Homo sapiens: one gene and its partners. The protein of the gene in region 2 purifies or fractionates together with the protein of the main gene of each other region. This does not show direct contact. Each region holds a gene or a part of one and is shown on either strand. Other genes may lie near its edges.

What was found.
Region 1: the proteins of PCCA (region 2) and TTC1 purify together in Homo sapiens (affinity purification with mass spectrometry; 2 studies listed by BioGRID and IntAct, with this or other methods). This does not show direct contact.
Region 3: the proteins of PCCA (region 2) and ALDH4A1 purify together in Homo sapiens (co-immunoprecipitation; one large-scale study listed by IntAct). This does not show direct contact.
Region 4: the proteins of PCCA (region 2) and TBC1D25 purify together in Homo sapiens (affinity purification with mass spectrometry; one large-scale study listed by BioGRID and IntAct). This does not show direct contact.

Annotation. Positions count from the first base shown.
Region 1 is NC_000005.10:160,014,712-160,019,952, reverse strand, and holds part of TTC1 (tetratricopeptide repeat protein 1), read right to left. Parts: exon of another isoform or gene 922-5,241; intron 1-921.
Region 2 is NC_000013.11:100,304,405-100,309,645, forward strand, and holds part of PCCA (propionyl-CoA carboxylase alpha chain, mitochondrial isoform a precursor), read left to right. Parts: intron 1-1,346; exon of another isoform or gene 1,347-1,430; intron 1,431-2,787; coding exon 2,788-2,856; intron 2,857-5,241. UniProt on the Homo sapiens protein: This is one of the 2 subunits of the biotin-dependent propionyl-CoA carboxylase (PCC), a mitochondrial enzyme involved in the catabolism of odd chain fatty acids, branched-chain amino acids isoleucine, threonine, methionine, and valine and other metabolites.
Region 3 is NC_000001.11:18,874,242-18,879,482, reverse strand, and holds part of ALDH4A1 (delta-1-pyrroline-5-carboxylate dehydrogenase, mitochondrial isoform a precursor), read left to right. Parts: intron 1-109; coding exon 110-183; intron 184-1,870; coding exon 1,871-2,067; intron 2,068-2,227; coding exon 2,228-2,275; intron 2,276-3,015; coding exon 3,016-3,168; intron 3,169-3,979; coding exon 3,980-4,101; intron 4,102-4,901; coding exon 4,902-5,020; intron 5,021-5,241. UniProt on the Homo sapiens protein: Irreversible conversion of delta-1-pyrroline-5-carboxylate (P5C), derived either from proline or ornithine, to glutamate. This is a necessary step in the pathway interconnecting the urea and tricarboxylic acid cycles.
Region 4 is NC_000023.11:48,545,287-48,550,527, forward strand, and holds part of TBC1D25 (TBC1 domain family member 25), read left to right. Parts: intron 1-4,227; exon of another isoform or gene 4,228-4,358; intron 4,359-5,241. UniProt on the Homo sapiens protein: Acts as a GTPase-activating protein specific for RAB33B. Involved in the regulation of autophagosome maturation, the process in which autophagosomes fuse with endosomes and lysosomes.

The sequences.
Region 1 (5,241 bases), on a different chromosome or scaffold from region 2:
TGTCTCAAAATAAACAAACAGAAAACAACAACAACAAAAAGAAAACAAGAAATGAAAGAAAAGGGAGGCAGGAGGCAGGGCACAGTGGCTCATGCCTATAATCCCAGAACTTTGGGAGGCCGAGGTGGGTGGATCATGATGTGAGTTCGAGACCAGCCTGGCCAATATGGTGAAACCCAGTCTCTAGTAAAAATACAAAAATTAGCTGGGTGTGGTGGCACACGCCTGTAGCCCCAGCTACTCGGGAGGCAGAGAGAGAATCGCTTGAATCCGGGAGGCGGAGGTTGCAGTGAGCAGAGATCGCACCGCTGCACTCCAGCTTGGGCAACAGAGAGGGAATATCCATCTCAAAAAAAAAAAAAAAAAAAAAAAGAATGAAAGAAAAGGGAAACAACAAAATCAGAAAGGTTGCTCATGACGTTAACAGGACTATGCAGGCCACTATGGAAGAAGTTACTGAGAACTTTTTGGAAGCAATCGAGAGTATTCCCTGCAAACACATCCACAGCCACAACATTAATTAGATTATGAAAATGGTGCAATAGGGTGGCAGAAACATGGAAATCCAAAAGATTAAGTAATGTGGAATTTAGGAAAAATGACAGAGGGAAGAGACTGAAATATAACATCTGTTCTAAACTGAAACTTCTAAGCTTTGATAATGGTTCCTAAAGAGAAAATGACCTTAAAGAATAATCCTTAAAACTTTCAGAGCCTAATGTTTTAAAATCCCAGATACCAGGCATTCTGAATCCATGTTCACCAAGCAACAGACTTTTGGATCCCTTATGTGTACATGTAAATGAATACCATTTGCAAACCACTAGTGAAAGGGAGCAAACCCATTGAAATGACTAAATCTGCATTTTGGCTTACAAATAAAAAATGTTTGTTTGCAGGAAAGAATTAAATCACCAGAACCTGGATAAGTTCAAAGTTCCTTCATCTTCTTCATATTAATAAAGGCCACACCATCCATCCAGTAGCTGAAGACAAGGAATCATTCTAACGTCTCACTCCATCCCGCCAATCGAATCCACTGCAATGTGTGGTCTGCTTTACCTCTGAAATATATCCCAAAATCATACACTTCTCTTCAGATCCACAGTTCAAGCTACTATCATCTTCACTGGGCTACTGCATTAGAGCCTAATTGGGCTCAAATGTTCTATTCATGTCCCTCCTCCATCCTCATACCCCTCCATTCTCTGTATAAGAACTGAATTCTCTTATTAAAATGTAAATAACTTCCGTCTCTCCCTGGCTTAAAATTATCCATCTGTTTCCTTCTGCACTTGGAAAAAACTTCAAGTTCTTTACTACGGCTTAGGAACTATTCCATAATCAGACCCTTGCCTACTATCAGCCCACTCTCTTCCTTAATCATCATGCTTCAGCCATCGGCTCTTCCATTCCTTGAACATGCCAAAACACCAAACTTGTTGTTACTTTAGGGCTTTATTCAACTGCTCTCTTTGTCTGCAATGCTTCCCTCTCAGACGGTCACACATTTGGCTGCTCCCAGTGCCACCCTCCCCTAAGTCTCTGTTGAGAGGCCACCTCTCCAGAGAGGCTTTCCTGACCAGCCAATCTAAAGCAGTCCTCTCCACCTGTCTTAGTCAGGTTGCTATAACAAAATAACAGACTCAGTAATTTATAAATAATAGAAATTTATTTTGCACAGCTCTAGGGGCTGGAAATTCCAAGATCAAGGCACCAGCAGATTTCGCGTCTGGTAAGGGGCTTGTTCTTTGCTTCAATATGGTGCCTTCTTTCTGCATCCTCACTTTGTGGAAGGGGAGTAGAAGGGCCCAACAGGTTCCCTCAAGTCTTTTATTGGTATACTTTATAAGGATACTAATTCTTCTAATCACCTTCTAAAGGCTCCACCTCTTAATACTACACATTGAGGATTAAGTTCAACATGAATTTTGGAGGAAAACATTCAAACCATAGCACCATCCTTCCAACCCAACCCATCCTTCATGTTAACATTTTGTCCTAATTCTCCAATGAGAGAACAGAAACCCTGTCTTGTTCACCACTGTATCCCTCAGGGCCTCAAACAATGTCTAGTGGGTGGAAGAAATGTAAATATTACTTGAATAAATGTGAGAAAAAAATTTCTGTAACTTATAAGGCCAATTATTGGCTCTCATGGGGGAGAAAAAGATGCTATTCATTCAACAGCTATTTAATGAAGGAAGATTGTGCAAAACCTGTGACAGTGGTCCTCAAGCCTCAGCATGTGCATATGAATTACCTAGGAAATTTACACATGAGACCTAAGAAACTGCACTGTGACAAGCAGTCCATAAAAGGCGATTTTCTTATGGAATCAATACTAGCATTCTGCAGTATGTGCCATAGGTCCTAATACTATAAACACTTGCTATGGTCTGAATGTGTCCCTCCAAAATTCATGTTGAAATAATCCCCATTGTGTTGGTATTAAGAGGTGCGTCCTTTTGGGATGTGATTAAGTCATAAGGGTTCCAACCTCATGAATGGATTAGTGTCCTAATAAAAGAGGTTGAAGGGAGCTGCCCTGCCCCTGCTGCCATGTAGGGACACAAATGGTGCCATCTGTAAGGAAGAGGCCCTCACCAGACACTAAAATTGCTGGCACCTTGATCTTGGACTTCTCAGCCTCCAGAATTATGAGCAATAAATTTCTATTATTTATAAGTTATCCAGTCTAAGGTATTTTGTTATAGCAGCTCCAACACACTAAGATAGAATTTTTGTATCATAATGTTATTATTGCAATTCTCTTCTGCTGCTACATTTGTCCTTCACCTTAGCCAAGCCTCTCAGAACCAGTTATTTGCTTCACATACCTAGTACATCTCAAATGTTAGCTAAAATTCCATTCCTGTGGGTAGTTATATCTACATTTAAGCTTTCACAAATAGTTAAGATTTACTGCTGAAATAAACACACGAATACACTATACTCTCTGAGAGCTTTTCCTGTTTTTACCAAATCTTAACTGCTTTCCTCCTCAATTATTCTTGATTTATGAGTCCTGCTGAGAAGTGACACTACACTTGAGCGTGAATTATCTTCCCAGCCACAGGACAAGTGAAGTTAGCTTGATTAACAGACTTTGGCTACTATTATTTGGTTGTGTCCAACAAGAAACCTTTAATACTACATAGACCCTGTACGGAATAGCACTTCTTTCCCAAATCATCAGGGGTCAGCTTCATGTGCTTTTGTGGTAGGGCACACAGTTTGGTTGTAAAGTAATCAATTTTTATTTATTTATATTCTTAAAATGGAATAATGTAATACAGGCTTACTGAAAAAAAAAGCAAATATTACAAAATTGCATTACATATAAATTAAAATTCCCTAATAATCATACCTCTCAAAGTTACTTACTGCTTATACTTTGGTGTATATCCTTCAAATTTGTATGTATAAACATATTTTCACATAGCCTTAAAAGAAATCATCACTGTTGTATAACCTGATTAATTAATTTGACATTATATTACAGGCAGCTTCCCAGGTCAATACCTACGATTCATCTTTTTAAAAAAATTTTTTAAATTATTTATTTATTTATTGAGACAGAGTCTCATTCTGTCACCCAGGCTGGAGTGCAGTGGCGTGATCTCGGCTCTCTGCAACCTCCGCCTCCTAGGTTCAAGCAATTCTCGTGCCTCAGCCTTCTAAGTAGCTGGGACTATAGGTGTGCACCGCCATACCTGGCTAATTTTTGTATTTTTAGTAGAGATGGGGTTTCACCATGTTGGCCAGGCTGGTCTTGAATTCCTGGTCTTGAGTGGTCTGCCCACCTTGGCCTCCCAAAGTGCTGGGATTATAGGCATGAGCCACTGCACCCGGCCAAGATTTACCTTTAACAACTGCATTGTATACTACATAAATATAACAACAAAATTTAAGTAATACTCTGGGAAGAACACATTTTTCTCTCCTACTATACCCTCCCAATAGGTCTGACACCAGATGAGAGTGTTTTCCACACTAAACAATTCTCCAATGGACACCAACGGAGTGTCCTATAATTCAATTCAGTTCTGTCACTATCTCCAGGTAGACAGTGTCTGATCCCACAGGTTAAGAGTTTAGTCTCATAAGCCTGGCCCCACTTCAGACACTAATCACAAGTCCCAGGTTGTGACCTATGATTCCGACTGAATGGTTAGCACAGGGTTCTTACCACCCTCTCTGTGGGTTCAATAATTTGCTAGAATGGCTCACAGAACTCTGGGAAACACTTTACTTACACTTAGTAGTTTATTACAAAGGACATTATGAATGATATAGAACAGCCAGGTGAAGAGACACACAGGGAAAGGTAGAGGGAGAAGGGGTGCAGAGCTGCCACGCCCTCTCTGGGTGCTACCCTCTTAACACTTCCATGTGCTCATCAACCTGGAAGCTCATCAGATTTCTAGTTCAAGAGTTTTTATAGGCCAGGCGCAGCAGCTCACACCTGTAATCCTAGCACTGTGGGAAGCTGAGATGGGAATATTGCTTGAGTCCAGGAGTTCGAGACCAGCCTGGGCAACATAGTAAGACTTCATTTCAAACACAAAAAAATTTAGCAAGGTGTGGTGGAAGGCGCCTGTGGTCCCAGCCACTTGGGACATTGATGTAGGAGGATTGCTTGAGCCCAGGAGGTTGAAGCCTCCAGTGAACTATGATCGCACCTCTGCACTCCAGCCTGGGCAACAGAGCGAGACTTGGCTCAAAACACAAGAAGAAAAAAGCTTTAATGGAGCTTAATCTCCAGCACTTGCCCTCCTCCTTTCCTGGATTTTGGTAGGTGGTGCCAAAAGTTCCAACCCTCTAAAACTCTAATCACTTAGTCTTTTTGGTGACTGGCCCCATCCTTCCTTAGGCTATAGATAGGCCAGATCCTAAAAGTTATCTCATTAGGATGAACTCAGGTGTTATCAAAAGGGGTACATTAAGAATAACAAAAAAATACACTACACTATCAGAAAATTCCAAGGGTTCTAGTGGCTCTGTAACAGGAACCAGGGACAAAGACCAAATAAATTTACTATACTACAAATACCCTGTTTAACATTGTCTAGCTTTCCAAAATTATGAATGATGCTGCAACACATCTATGTATATACATTTGTGTATATTTCTAATAATTTCCTTGAAATAAATGGCTACAAGAGAATCAGCGTTAATGCTGTCATGTCCAATATGGTACTTACTAGCCACATGTGACGATTTTAAAATTATTTATTT
Region 2 (5,241 bases):
TCAGCAGGACAGTAGATGCGTTGACAGCTGTAATTATGTATCTCCATGGTGATCACTTTTGGCCTGTCATGGAGGCCCATGAGTCCCCTCCCTTGGAAGCATTTAATCAGATTGGGCTGTCACTTGTCAGGTAGACATGGCGGGCTGGGAGTTGTGCTTAGGGGGAGAGGTGAATTGAGAATGAAGGGTGGGAGATGTCTGATAGTTTCACAGAGTCCACTGTGGTACTGAAGACAGAAATTTTAATTATGCTAGAGGTTTCTGAGCAGTGGTTTGAGAATCTCGTACAGAGGTGCTTGGGTGTTTTGTTGTGGTTGTTATTGTTTGTTTTTCTTCCTTGTCTTATTAAAACTAGAGCAGTCAGTTTACCTTAGAAAACAATTTTTGGCTCTTACCTTTTTTGGTCACAAGAATGCATACTTAAGAGTTAACTTATGGTTTGTACTTTTCACATGCTTCATTAAGCCTGAGATTTATTAATATGGCAGAGGTGAAGATTTCCTTTTTTATTTTTGATCATCATGTTTTGTAAATTTGTTATTTTCAGACCACAGTTTTGTTCTGCTCAGAAATTTGGTTCTGATTTCATTTGAATTTTTTCTTAAAGTTTTTAGTGCAAATTTGTATAGCCTTTCATTGAAGGAATGGAGACTTGATCTGACTTCAGATTGGTTGTTAAGAAATAAAAATATAGCTGATTATTACTTGGAAAAAGCAGCATAAATAGTAAATTATAAAGCAGAGTTTTCATACTGTGGTACAGTTTTTAATTGGGAATACTGATTTGCTTATACAAAGATACGTGTTTATATATATCTTGATTTTATCGTATGTATTTTAAAGTTAAGATGACATAACTTCTGTGATCATAATATTAGTAAATAACAAAGACAGTTATATTTAATTAAGATCTGTAGGTAACACCTTATAGGATGATATTATTCAAGGCAACTGAAGTTTTAAGTAAGGAACTGTAGAAGAACATAATAAATATTCTTTATTGTCTATGTTATTTTATTTGTGGGTTGAACATCTAAGTTCTTCCTAGCTTTGTAGCAGTTTATGTAGCAAATGATAGGATGTAGTTAAAGTCAGAAGTTTTAGAACTTGTATCAGTCTCGTTTGTAAACACAGCATTAGCAAGCATGCTGTGGTTTTAAAGATGACATAGTGGTCAAATTAGCTCTTTCACTTTTTAGTACTAAAATTAAGAAAATGAAAACTCACAGATATATTTTCTGTTATGTAACCCGTTTACTAGTTGCCATTTTGGGGCTCTTTAATGTGGGGAAAAGGTAGATTGTGATTTTATTGCTTTTAAAGCTGCTCCATTAATTTTTTTCTAGTTTTTGTCAACACTGTGAATTTCATAGAACATCAGTTTATGTCCTGAAATATGTTTTCAGAAAATAGAAAGCCAAGTATATTTCGTAAGTGTGCTGAATGATTTTTGTTTATAATTAAGATTTTTGTATATGAATGTGAATACGAATACAGATATCTATATTTTTGTTTGTGCTTGCAAATACAGAAATAAAAGCCCTTCAGGTATGTTATAGTGTTCCTTTTACAACCTTACAAAGAGAATAATAGTAGTGTGAATTTTAAGAAAATGAAACTATCGCTTGTCTTCTGATGTCACCGTATAATAAAGCCATCATTATACCCTCATGTGGATATCCTAGACAAGAGGTTCTACATGTGGTCCCTTGATAATTGCCTAAATTAAAATATTAAAGGCCTAACAGCCGCTGTGTTGACCTTTTTCTGCCTTGCTGCAGACAGATGAGCTGCTGTTTATTAGGAAGGCTTCTTCCCACAGGTGGAAGGCTACGTGAGCTTCCGCTCTTCTCTTCCCACCCCTTTACAATGTTGGGCATCAAAGTCCTGCTGTTCCAGCAGCTTTGATTCAGTTCCTCCATCCTCAAGACCCCTAGGATGTGCCTGACAGTCTGAAGTATTTTGATTAGCTTTTAAATACTTCAGATTCCAAAACTTCTTTCTAATAATTTAATAAATGTTCTGTCCTCAGTAACTGCTCATTTTTAAAGTTTTGCATGGCTAACCTCCGTGCCTTGCTGCTGGTATCAAACTGGGAAATGAAAACAAGAATCAGTGATGTACTAACTCACTCGTTGGCTGGTTAACAGCAATCAGCCTCTTCAAAAGAATATTTTGAACTTGTGCTATCCCCCTACCCCCCACCCCAAGAAAATCACAAAATCAGAACTCTAATTGGGGCTTTACAAAGCAAAGCCATAGGAAAAGCTGTGTAAACATGAAAGCCTCAGGGGAGCAACAGTAACAGAAAAATAGTGTTTTACAGTTGAGAGGGTGAGGCAGAAAAGGAAAGTGTTACAGACATGAAAGGCCCAGGCCCACATTCCTATGGAGCTGAGGACCAGGCTTGACGAGGGGCCTCACTGGTGGGCTCAGAAGGGTCTGGCAGGGAGTGCAGTTAGCAAGGGCATCGTCCATGCCATGCTTCAGCTGGAAGACACCATCAGAGAGCCACAGCATCCTGGCATAGTGATGTAGGAAGTCTTCATTTTTTATTTTTTATTTTTGCTGTTTTTTAGTTTCGTCATTCAGTGGCAGAACAAAAAATGTGTTGCATTACATATTAACGGATCAAGATTTTAGATTGTTTTCCTATTTTCCAGAAGTTGAAATGTTATTTGAGATTGAAATTCTCTATCCATTTTCTCCATGGAAATGAAATTGGTGGTTACAAAAAAATATCTACACAATATGAATTACTTTTCTTTTTTTCTTTTTTTCTCCCAGGTCCGAGTGGACAGTGGCATCCAACCAGGAAGTGATATTAGCATTTATTATGATCCTATGATTTCAAAAGTTAGTTTAATTTCTCAATGGATTATTTGATTTCTTCGAAAAATCAATGATATTTAAAGAGTCTGAAACTGGGCCTTTATCTGAATCATAAGCTATAATTAAACAACTAATTATGCACTGATGTAAATGTGAAAGCAGAGCAGGTTTTTTCTCTTGAGAGAAAATTCAGCGTTATGTTAGTTTGTAGTACTCCTCCTCCCCAACTAAATCATGCCACACCATCACACACATGCATGAACAATAATAATAATAAACATCTAACCAGTGGTGCCAGCCTAACTCATTGCCATGAGAAGGAATTAAGGTTTTTTTTGGCCATTGGCAGAAATTACCTGAGATGGAAGTATGAATGAATGGCAAGAGTTGGGCTGATAGGCAGTGTTTGTTAGAGTACTTTTTGATCTTTTCTCTTCAGTTTTTACAAATTACCAATTATTTAAGTAGATGTGATGTAAGAGTATAAGATTTGTTTTGCCCACCTGTCTTTTTGAAGTTTGACTTTCCAGAATAAATGAATTGAATTTTTGGATCTTTAAACCCTTAAAACCGTATAAAGTGTAAAATGCTGTAATAATTAAGATTGTGGATTTTATTTTTATTTTATTATTATTTTTTTGAGATGGAGTCTCGCTCTGTCCGCCAGCCTGGAGTGCAGTGGCACGATCTTGGCTCACTGCAACCTCCGCCTCCCAGGTTCAAGCGATTCTCCTGCCTCAGCCTCCTGAGTAGCTGGGTGGCTCGTGCCACCAAGCCCAGCTAATTTTTTTTGTTTTTAGTAGAGATGGGGTTTCACCTTGTTAGCCAGGATGGTCTCCATCTCCTGACCTCGTGATCCGCCCGCCTCGGCCTCCCAAAGTTCTGGGATTACAGGCGTGAGCCACAATGGCCGGCCAGATTGTGGATTTTATTTTGAAAATTCTGTGTTCTCTGAAATGATACATCTGTATTGAGGAATGATTTGTTTTTCAAGCCTTGTTTCTCAAGATGGCTTTTCCCCAAGTGTCCTTTTTAATGTTATAGTTGCAGTAAACAAACACTTTTTTATCTGTCTTTCTTCAGTTAGGGTTTTAGTGCTTTTTTTTGGGATAGGGTCTCCCTTTTTCACCCAGGCTGGAGTGCAGTATCATGATCTTGGCTCAGTGCAGCCTTGACCTCCCAGGCTCAAGCGATCCACCTGCCTTAGCCACCCAAGTAGCTGGGACTACAGGTGTGTACTACCATGCAGGGCTATTTTTTTATATCTTTTGTAGAAATGGGGCTTCCTCATGTTACCCAGGCTGATCTCGAATACCTGAGCTCAAGCAATCCACCCGCCTCGGCCTCTCAAAGTGCTGGGATTACAAACGTGAGCCACCGTGGTTGGCCTAAGTTATTAGTAGTATTAAAATAAAATTTAGGTCTTTTGTTTATTAGAGAACCACCATTTAATTTAAAAATAAAACTATGTAAAAATATTATACGTTGATTTTTAAATATTCCATTTTTAGATGAATGTTTTTCTCTTCAGAAAAATGGCCTACAAATTAATTTTCAAATTTGCTTGATATTGAAGAGCTAGTAAAACCTACTAAAATAATCACAATCTATAGATTGGCTAATATAACTGCCAGAAAAATCTTTAATGAATAGTTAAGGTCTTATTTCATTGCCAAATTATAGAGATACATATAAGTAGGCACTAAATCATGTAGAATAGTAAGACTTTTCTGTTTTTTTGATTTCTGAAAAAGTACCATTTGCTTCTGTGTATATTATATGTAAAACTGCAAATGATTTCTAAGATAGTCGTCTTCTTTCTTTATACTTTTATTTTTGAAACTTTACTTTTTTTGTTAGTTATGAAAGTGTTAAGGGCTGGACGCAGTGGCTCATATCTGTAATCCCAGCACTTTGGGAGGCTGAGGTAGGTGGATCACCTAAGGTCAGGAGTGTGAGACCAGCCAGGCCAACATGGCAAAACCCTGTCTCTACTAAAAATACAAAAAAATTAGCTGGGCGTGGTGACACACGCCTGAAATCCCAGCTTCTCGAGAGGCTGAGGCGAGAGGATCGCTTGAACCTGTGAGGCGGAGGTTGCAGTGAGCTGAGATTGCGCCACTGCCCTCCAGCCTGGGCAATAGAGCGAGACTCCATCTCAAAAATAAAAAATAAAAAGAAAGGAAAGTGTTAGCTATTCAGGGTATCAAACTTGGAAACCACAGAAAAATAGGGAAAAAATGTCTTATCTAATCCTCACCACTACCCTTGGTGTTCAAATCCTATCTCATATATTCACGTTTAGCTGTATCTCCTTTTAAATTTTTTCTGTACTTACTTTTGTTACGTTTTTGTTTTTGTAAAATCACTCTTTACTATGATAATGAAATGTAGGAGAAGAGTCTGAAA
Region 3 (5,241 bases), on a different chromosome or scaffold from region 2:
GGCTCCCACCTCCTGCTGGGCTGCCCCCGGCAATGCTCCTCCCTGGGCTTTTCCGCCCCCTTCCTCTGGCCTGGCTCCCTGAACCCCACCCTTTCTCCTGTGGTTCCAGCACCTTCAAACACCTGTGGAAGCAGGTGGCCCAGAACCTGGACCGGTTCCACACCTTCCCACGCCTGGCTGGAGGTAAGGCCTGCCTCACCTCCTCCTCCCGTGTGGCCCCAGGGACCCCTCCCCTGGCCATTATGAAAGAGGAGGGAGGTAGAGGGGATCCAGCCACAAGTCAGGTGGATGAACCATTTCAGGCACCAGCACTGCCCAGTAGAACTTTTTGTGATGAGGGATGCGTCCAGTACCTTCACTCTCCAATATGCAGCCACCAGCCACACATGGCCATGGAGCCCTTGAAGGGTGGCCTGTGCGACTGAGGAACTGCATTATCTAGTTTTCTTTCATTTTAATTAAGTTAAATCTTAGTAGCCAGTCGTGGCTGGTGGCTGCCGTGTCGGGCATTGCAGCTGTAAGCGGAGGCAAGTGCAAATGCAGAGACCAGAAGTGGGAATGAACTTGTATTTGAAGAAACAAAGCAAGGCCCATGAGTAGGGAGGGAGGAGGGCTGGTAGGAGAAGACGGGCTGAGACGTAGGCAGGGCTGGACCTTGTTGGCATATTAAAGTTTTCCCACAAAGAAACAGTTTCATGGTCAAGGAAATTTGGCATGTGTGGTGTTAAAGCAAAATGGACTCCTCCCGTGCAGAACTTCTCAGAGCCTTGAATGCTCTAATACGCATGGCACATCTTCAAGGACAAGGTCTGCCATGTAGTGTTTCCCACACGCATTGGGCCATGGAACCCCGTTTCTGCAAAGACCCCCATGGACCAAGTGTTTTGTGGAGCACATTTTGGGAATGTGCTGAGGCCTAGAGGGAGGGAGAGTTGCAGCCAGCACGTGACCAGCAGAGCTGGGACCGGTGGTCCAGCATGTTTCTCTGTGGCGTGAATTGGGGCCCACTGGGGAGTCTGGACCCTGTTCCTGGACTGGTGGGAGTTCGGATGGGGGTGTCAGGGAAGGTGAGCGCTCCTCAGGGTCAGCTGTGTGGCTTTCTGCTCTCAGAGCCTCCTTCCCTGCCTCCCTGAGGGAGAGAGGCCGCTGGTTACCACTTTCCAACCTGGAGCAGGTGACTTCATCTCTCTGTGCCTCAGTTTTCTTGGCTTGAAATTGGGGATAGTAATGGGAGGTTGTTGTGAGGCTTTGGTCAGACAAAGCACAGCGTACTTCGTCCAGAGTTGGGCAGCTGTTAAGTGCTTTCAGCTGCTGTTAGCTGCTGCTTCCCACGGAGGGAGGAAACTGAGGCCGGGAGAGTGAAGTGACCTGTCTGAAGCTCCCTCCCACTGGGGAAATGGGGGAGCGGTTTCCAGCACGCGTGGGGAGGAGGGGCCCAACCCTGGCAGCCGACATAGGGTAGGCTCCAATGTCCCTCGTGGACGAGGGCTCAGGAGAACCTCACAAAAAGCTGTGCCCACTTCTGGGAATGGCTGGCTCTCGGGGGCCTTGGGTTCTCATCTGTCCTCTGCTGTTGTGTTGGGTAGTTTCAGTTTTCCCATCAGTGTAATGGGGCTGTTGGACCTGATCACCTCTGATGCCCTTCACCCCTCCCTGGGCCTCAGTTTCCTCATCTGTGGAGTGGGAGAATGGGCCTGGCCCGTGGGTCTCTGGGATGTTGGCCAGCGCTCACTCTGAGCCTCCGCCCGCTCTGGGCTGCTCCGTGCTCGTGTTGGTCCCGGGCCATGGATGGCGTAGGTGGTGTTTTGGGCCCCTGGGCAACCGGGGGAGCCAGCTCCTCTGGTCATTTCCCCACCCCCGACCCCTGTAGAGTGCGGCGGAAAGAACTTCCACTTCGTGCACCGCTCGGCCGACGTGGAGAGCGTGGTGAGCGGGACCCTCCGCTCAGCCTTCGAGTACGGTGGCCAGAAGTGTTCCGCGTGCTCGCGTCTCTACGTGCCGCACTCGCTGTGGCCGCAGATCAAAGGGCGGCTGCTGGAGGAGCACAGTCGGATCAAAGTGGGCGACGTGAGTGGCACCGTCACCCCCGCCGCGGCCCAGCGGGGGGCTGATGGGATTGGGTCCCTGGGAGGCTCCTCTGCAGCCGGGGCTGGGGTGTGCGGGGAGGGGTCTCCCTTGGTCTCGGCCTGCAGTGACTCGTCTCTTCTGGCGCCTCCCTTGCCTCCAGCCTGCAGAGGATTTTGGGACCTTCTTCTCTGCAGTGATTGATGCCAAGGTACGGGGTGGGAAGTGGGCGTTCCTGGGTGGGGGCAAGCCCTGGAGTGGGTGGAAGAGGGAGGAAGAGATACAGGGTACCCTGACCCAGGGCATGACCCAGCCCCACTGCTTTGATCAAGGCAGCTCAGCAGCCACACACGCACCTCCAGCTTCAGAAAGGGCAGAATCAGCCGTAGCCAGACAAGAGCTCATCTTGCGGCCACCCTGGAACCAGGCTCAGCGAGCTCCTAATAGCATTTGCATGAGTGCATGTACACGTGTGTTTGTGAATGTGTTCATATAGGGCTCCGTGTGGCTCCACATGTAGGTCTTTCCATATAAACACGTACATATCCATTTGCACATAAGCACACACACGCATATGTCGATAAGTCCACCCACACGCATGTACATGGAGAAGGCATGCAGATCCCTACATGCTTAGACATGTGACCATGCATATGCCTATATATGCATTGATTGATGTGTGTCTGTGTTTATATGCGAGTGCACCTGTAGTACTAACACACGTACACTTGTGTGTGTACACACACACACACACACAGTGTTCATGTCTGTCCTTGTCTCTGCTGTGGCTCAGCCAGACCCTGGCTTTTGCCCTTGGCGTCCCCTACCCCTGCCCCTGTTTCAGGAGTTGGGCCCTTCAGGTGCAGGTGTTTCGGGGTGAGTGTGTTGTGGGGGCTGCCGCAGGGATGCCTTCCCAGCCTCTTAGACCTCCCTCCTCCCTGCCCACCCCAGTCCTTTGCCCGTATCAAGAAGTGGCTGGAGCACGCACGCTCCTCACCCAGCCTCACCATCCTGGCCGGGGGCAAGTGTGATGACTCCGTGGGCTACTTTGTGGAGCCCTGCATCGTGGAGAGCAAGGACCCTCAGGAGCCCATCATGAAGGAGGTGACTGGGGTGGGCAGCCTGGGGTCCAGAGGAGGACAATCCCACCGGAGCACAGCACACACACAGTTCTCCTGGAGACATTCTCCCATTTCACAGATGAGGCCCTAAAGGGAGACCCTAAAAGGGAATGCCTCCGACCGGGAGAGAGTAGAGCCAGGTTTTGAGCTCAGGCTGCCTAACTCCAAATCCGGGGCTGTGTCCTTGACCCTGGCTGGGGTCTGAGCATTTCCAGTGCCCTCAGCAACCACGTCCACTGCAGCCATCATAATGGCTGACACTGATAGACTTTTACTGTGGGGCCAGCTGTGGCTGAGCACTTGGCTGAGATGACGTGGGTGTTACTGTTCCCATTTTACAGATGAGAAACTGAGGTCAAGGCACTTGCCCAAGTTGGTAGTGCAGGGCTGGAGTGTGCCTGAGAAGATCTTCCCCCCAGCCCCTTGGTGGCAGAGGGAACCATGAACCCTTCTGGAGGGAATGGTATCTCTGGGCAACTCTCATGCCAGCTGCTGCTGGAAGCCTCTGGGACCTGGACCCTTAGTTCTCCGGGTGTGGGTTTGGCAGGGAGAGCCAGAAAATGTTTGCATCTTTTGCCGGCTTGTGGTGGGATGGACAGGACAGGGAGCTGGGCACGTTGCTGTCCTGGAGGGAACCCAGGAGGAGGCGACACCTGACCCTTCTTGCAGACACTGAAGTGTAAACTGAGGCCCAGGGACTGGGGAGAGGGTGAGCCAGAGCAGGGGCACTGGGAGGGCTCAGGGCCCTGGTCCCTGGTCCCGTGGAGGGTCTGACGCCGGGGCCTCTCTCCTAGGAGATCTTCGGGCCTGTACTGTCTGTGTACGTCTACCCGGATGACAAGTACAAGGAGACGCTGCAGCTGGTTGACAGCACCACCAGCTATGGCCTCACGGGGGCAGTGTTCTCCCAGGATAAGTGAGTGGCCAGGCCGCAGCCCTGGTGCTGTGCTCCGGGTGTCCTGTCCGTGTCCCCATCCCCACCTCCTGGACGTGGTTCCCAGTAATAATGCTGCCCCTACCTTCTCTCTGTCCCCTCCCCTCAGCCCAGACAGGCAGCCAGGGCTCGCCACATGGGCCCACAGCAGCAGGCTCTTTGTTGCCGGTACTGGTGGTGCCGGTGCCAGGGTGCCACTGGGGACCAGTGGATCTGAACCTCTAGGGGCAGGGCTAGGAATTGGTGTCTTCGACTGGCTCTGCGGGATCTGGTGTTGCCCCACTGAGTGAGGTGATTGTCCCATGCTACAAAGCAGGGCAGGCCAGGGGCTGCAGAGGCAGGATTCGAACCTGGGTCACATGAGGCTAAACTTGAGGCTTCGCCTCTTCTTTCCTCCGTGGCACTGGTTGCCCCCATGTCTGCCTCTATGAGAAAGTGGAGGTGAGCTTGGAGAGGGAGGAAGGGTGTGGGCCTGGGAGCTGGAGTTTCCGCTGCTCCTGAGGGACAGGAACATTGGACCAGGACAGGCCACTCCCTTCAACTTCGCAGTAGCCCTGTAACGAGGCGTGCCAAGCCCCTCCCCAGAGGAGGAAGCTGGGCTCAGAGACTGGGTAACCTGACCGAAGGCCCACAGCCAACAGCTGGCAGCATCCCTCATCCCTGACTCGGCCTCCTGTTGAACCTGGAAAGCCAGTGTGGGCTGGAGCAGGGGTGTTGAGGCTGGAGCTGGGGCTGGAGGGGAGATGAGCTGGTTGCTCTGTCACCACTGCTCTGCTTTGTAGGGACGTCGTGCAGGAGGCCACAAAGGTGCTGAGGAATGCTGCCGGCAACTTCTACATCAACGACAAGTCCACTGGCTCGATAGTGGGCCAGCAGCCCTTTGGGGGGGCCCGAGCCTCTGGTGAGTGGGTCCCCCTTCCCACAGGGGAGCTGAGTTCCTGGTGGGAGACCCTAGATGTTACGTCTCGAGGGGCTTCAGAGTAATAGGAAGGATACCATTTACTGAGCACTTATTGTGGGCCAAGCAAGTGCACTAGCTCAGGGTCCTTTCAGCAAACTCGTGAGCAAAGGGACTATTCTTCCCATTTTACAGAGGAGGAAACTGAGGCTCAAGGCCACATG
Region 4 (5,241 bases), on a different chromosome or scaffold from region 2:
AAGGCTCAGAAAGTGTTATCTCTAATAATGATAATTATATTGTATTATACTATTATAACATATAACCGAGTAATGTATGTAATAATTAGATATAATGCAGATTTATAATATAGTATAACGGTATAGCTTTAGCATTATGTATTTCAGTTATAATACCTAAATATAACAATGCGTATTATAATAATGCTAGTTGTGTTTATTCATTCAGTCATTCTGCACCCATATTCATTTGTTTGTATTCTTGCTCACTCATTCATTTGTTCCCTTGACCTCTCAGCCACTTTTTCTCTTCTCATCTTTGTTCTTCCACTCTTGCCTATTCTGGTCCCTGCGAGCACACAGATAAATTAGGACGTGGTCTCAAAATTTGATTACAGACCATACATTAGATAATTGTATCAGTATTAAATTTCCTGGGTGTGTGTCTTAGTCGTTTTGTGCTACTATAACAGAATACCACAGACTGAGGAATTTGTAAAGAAGAGAAATTTATTTCTCACAGTTTTGGAGACTGGGAAGTCCAAGATCAAGGTGCTGGCAGGTTGTGTGTCTAGTGAGGGCTTTCTTGCTGCATCCTCACATGACAGAAGAGCAGAAGAGAGTGAACCCACACCCTCAACCTCTTTATAAGAGCCCAAATCCGCTGGGCACGGTGGCTCATGCCTGTAGTCCCAGCACTTTGGGAGGCTGAGGCAGGCGGATCACCTGAAGTCAGGAGTTCGAGACCATCCTGGCCAACATGGTGAAACCCTGTCTCTACTAAAAAAAATACAAAAATTAGCCGGGTGTAGTGGCACATGCCTATAATCCCAGCTACTCGGGAGGCTGAGGCATGAGAATCGCTTGAACCCGAAAAGCAGAGGTTGCAGTGAGCCAAGATCTTGCCACTGCACTCCAGCCTGGGTGACAGAGCGAGACTTCATCTCAAAAAAAAAAAAAAAAAGAGGCTGAGCACGGTGGCTCACGCCTGTAATCCCAGCAGTTTAGGAGGCCGAGGCGGGCAGATCACAAGGTCAGGAGATCGAGACCACCCTGGCTAACACGGTGAAACCCTGTCTTTACTAAAAATACAAAAAAATAGCCGGGCGTGGTGGCGGGTGCCTGTAGTCCCAGCTACTCGGGAGGCTGAGGCAGGAGAATGGCATGAACCCGGGAGGCGGAGCTTGCAGTGAGCCAAGATCGCACCACTGCACTCCAGCCTGGGCAACAGAGCAAGACTCCATCTCAAAAAATAAATAAAATAAAAAATAAAAAAAGAGCCCTAATCCCATCTGTGAGAGCTCTACCCTCAGGACTTAATCACCTCTTAAAGGCCCCCACCTCTTAATATGATCACATTGGTAATTAAATTGCAACACATGAATTTGGAAGGACACATTCAAACCATAGCAGTGTGGTAGTGGTATCATATCTATTGAAGGAAAATATCCTTGTTCTTGGGAAAGACACAGTTAAGTATGAAGGGGTAAAATGTCATGATGTCTGCAAATAAGTTGGCAAAAATAATGTGTTTATATACAGAGAGAGTGAGATAAAGCAAATGTGGCCCAAAAAAATGTTAATAGAGGATCTAGATGAAGTATGTATGGGTGTTCAGTGTATTCTTTTAACTTTATTGTAGGTTCAAAATTGTTTTAAATAGTTGTGGAGTGGAAGATGTGGTTCCCAGCCTCAGGAAACTCATGTGCCCATTTGGGATGAGTCGAGCACTTTATTGATGTCATAATAACATATAACTAGCTAATGTGTAGTGAACACTTAGGGCCATTCTGTGCACATAATATTTTTTCACTGAATTGTCAAAATAATCCTATAGAGTAGGGACAATCATTTTCCCCATATTATAGATGAGGAAACTGAGGCTCAGAGAGGTGACAGGACTCGTCCCAGTTATACAGACAGTAAGTTGAAGAGCAAGATTTGAACTCAGGCAGTGGCTGAACTGGCTCCAGAGTCCTTGTTCTTAACCATTTAACTCTACAACATTTTGGACTTGTTAAAATTGGCAGCTTTGCAAAAGAGAGACAGAGGAGAGAGAGAAACAAGAGTCAGAGGGAAAGATAGTGACAGAGATGGGCAGGAAGCCAAATAGGAAAAGCCAGGTAGCCAGACACACAGGAACCTCTGCCACTGAGTAGCCATATGTGCTTATGTCAGTCACTTAATTCCCTGGGCCTTGTTTTCCTCACCTGTTAAAGAGACACAGTAGCACTATTTCAGGAAAAAAATCAAATCTGCATGGCTACGAAACATGTGGAGAAAACCCCAAGTGCATGAGAACTGGGACGAATGCCAGTAAAGCAGAGAGACAGACAGAAAGACACCCAGTAGTCTGGCAGGAATACATCTTTAAAAGGTTATCTTTTTAGGCCAGGCGCCGTGGCTCACGCCTGTAATCCCAGCACTTTGGGAGGCCGAGGCGGGTGGATCACCTGAGGTCAGGAGTTCGAGACCAGCCTGGCCAAACATGGCGAAACCCTGTCTCTACTAAAAATACAGAAATTAGCCGGGCGTGGTGGTAGGCGCCTGTAATCCCAGCTACTCGGGAGACTGAGGCAGGAGAATTGCTTGAGCCTGGGAGGCGGAGGTTGCAATGATCCGAGCTCGTGCCACCGCACTCCAGCCTGAGTGACAGAACTAGACTCCATCTCAAAAAAAAAAAAAAAAAAGCCCTCTGTCTTATTTACCAAATTCCTGCACAACATCGGTCTGTTTCTGAATTCCTGATTCTCTTACGTTGATCTATTTATTAAATTATAAGCCAATTCTATGTTGTTTTAATCATTGTAGTAGTTTGTTTTCTGTTTGTTTGTTTGGTTTTGAGGGTTTTTTTTTTGTTTTTTTTTTGAGACAGGGTCTCACTCTGTCATCCTTGCTGGAGTGCAGTGGCCCAATCTCAGCTCACTGCAGCCTCCACCTCCCAGGCTCAAGCAATTGTCCCACGTCAGCCTCCTGAGTAGCTGGGCCTATAGGCACATGCCCCCATGCCCAGCTAATTTTTGTATTTTTTGTAGAGACAGGGTTTCGCCGTGTTGCCCAGGCTGGTCTTGAACTCCTGGACTCAAGCAGTCTGCCCGCCTCAGCCTCCCAAAGTGCTGGGATTACAAGCAAGAGCCACCGCACCCAGCCTTAATCATTATAGTTTTATGATATGTTTTCATGTTTTCCTTTTTAAAAAATTTTCTTGAATATTCTTGTTCACTTACTGTTCTTTTTATTTAATAAATCAGCTTATTATTCCATTAAAATCCTGACGGGAATTTGATTGGAGTCATATTTTTAAGAGAAACTAATCTTTCATTACCCAGTAAATACATTCTTATTAAAAATAAAAGCATTTTAAATAATGCTGAAGTCTCCTGGGAACGCTATGCCTAATCTCAATCCCCTACCCTACCCTTTTTGCCCCGAGGGAATCGGTTTGATGTGTAACTTTGCATGTCCTTTACTTATTTACACTCCCTACACACACATTTATCCACATATGTGAGTATATTCATATTTGCGTGTCTGTACACATAAACGGTATGTGTTTAACATAAGGTATTCTACACATTAATATGTAAGTGTCCAATATATGGAGCTATCATTAGACATATTAATGGCATTCTCATGATCATTTTCATGGCTGTGAAAGCAACAGACATGTTGGGACTGTTTGGATGGCCCAGTCCCTCTTTCTGGGAAAAAGCCAGTTTCTGTCACCTCTACAGTTGGGAGATTACAAAGCCTAGACCTTTGACCAATTTGTACTTTTCCGATATGAATCTTTTTTCTTTTTGAGACTCTCTTTGTCACCAAGGCTGGAATGCAGTGACGCAAATATGGCCCACTGCAGCCTTGACCTCAAGCTCTCCTCCTGCCTCAGGCTTTCAAGTAGCTGGGACTACAGGTGTGCACCACCATGCCCAGCTAATTTTTGTATTTTTTGTAGAGACATGGTTTTGCCATGTTGGCCAGGCTGGTCTCGAACTTCTGACCTCAAGTGATCCACCCACCTCGGCCTCTCAAAGTGTTTGGATTACAGGCGGGAGCCACCGTGCCCAGCCCCCAACCTCCTTTCTATCATAGGTACTGCAAATATTTTTCCCAGTTGATCTTTTGTTTTTTGGCTTTGCTTACGGGATGGATCTGTTTTGTCCTATCAAAATTAAACATTTGATTGCACGCCTACACAGATATCTATCTTTTTCTTTATGATTTCTGAGTTTCTCCTTTTTATTGCAGGTGGAGGGACAGAGTTTCACTCTCATTGCCCAGGCTGGAGTGCGATGGCGCGATCTCGGCTCACTGCAACCTCCGCCTCCTGGGTTCAAGTGATTCTCCTGCCTCAGCCTCCCAAGTAGCTGGGATTACAGGCATGTGCCACTACACCTGGCTACTTTTGTATTTTTAGTAGAGATGGAGTTTCACCATGTTGGTCAGGCTGGTATCGAATTCCTGATCTCAAGTGATCCACCTGCCTGGGCCTCCCAAAGTGGTGGGATTACAGGCATGAGCCACTGTGCCTGGCTGAGTTTCTCCTATTACTTTGGAACATGTTCCCCATCCATAAGCTTATACAAATATTCTATATTTTCTTCTACTATGCTTATTGTTTTCTTTTTTACATATAAATCTTTTCTCTGTCAGCATTGTGATAAGCAGACCTAGCTTTAAAAAAATCAAGATAGTCAATTATGCCAGCATCATTTTTTTTAATTTAATTTTTTTTTTTGAGACGAAGTTTTACTCTTATCGCCCAGGCAGGAGTGCAGTTGCACAATCTCAGCTCACTGCAGCCGCCGTCTCCTGGGTTCAAGCAATTCTCCTGACTCAGCCTCCCAAATAGCTGGGATTACAGGTGCCCGCCACCATGCCTAGCTAATTTTTGTATTTTTAGTAGAGATGAGGTTTTGCCATGTTGGCCAGGTTGGTGTCGAACTTATGACCTCAGGTGATCCACCCACTTCAGCCTCCCAAAGTGCTGAGATTACAGGCATGAGCCACTGCGCCCGGCCTGCCAGCATCATTTATTAAATAATCACCTTTTCTGCAGTGATTCGAAATGCCACGTTTGTCACATATTCAGTTTCCATATATACAAGCTTGGATTTATTTCTGGGCTTTCTATTGCATTCTACCAATGGGCTCTATTTGTCTACTGCTGTGCTAACACCATGTTATTTTTATGACAGTGGTTTTGTGGTCAAATTTTTTTTTTTTTTTGAGATGGAGTCTCGCTCTGTCGCCCAGGCTGGA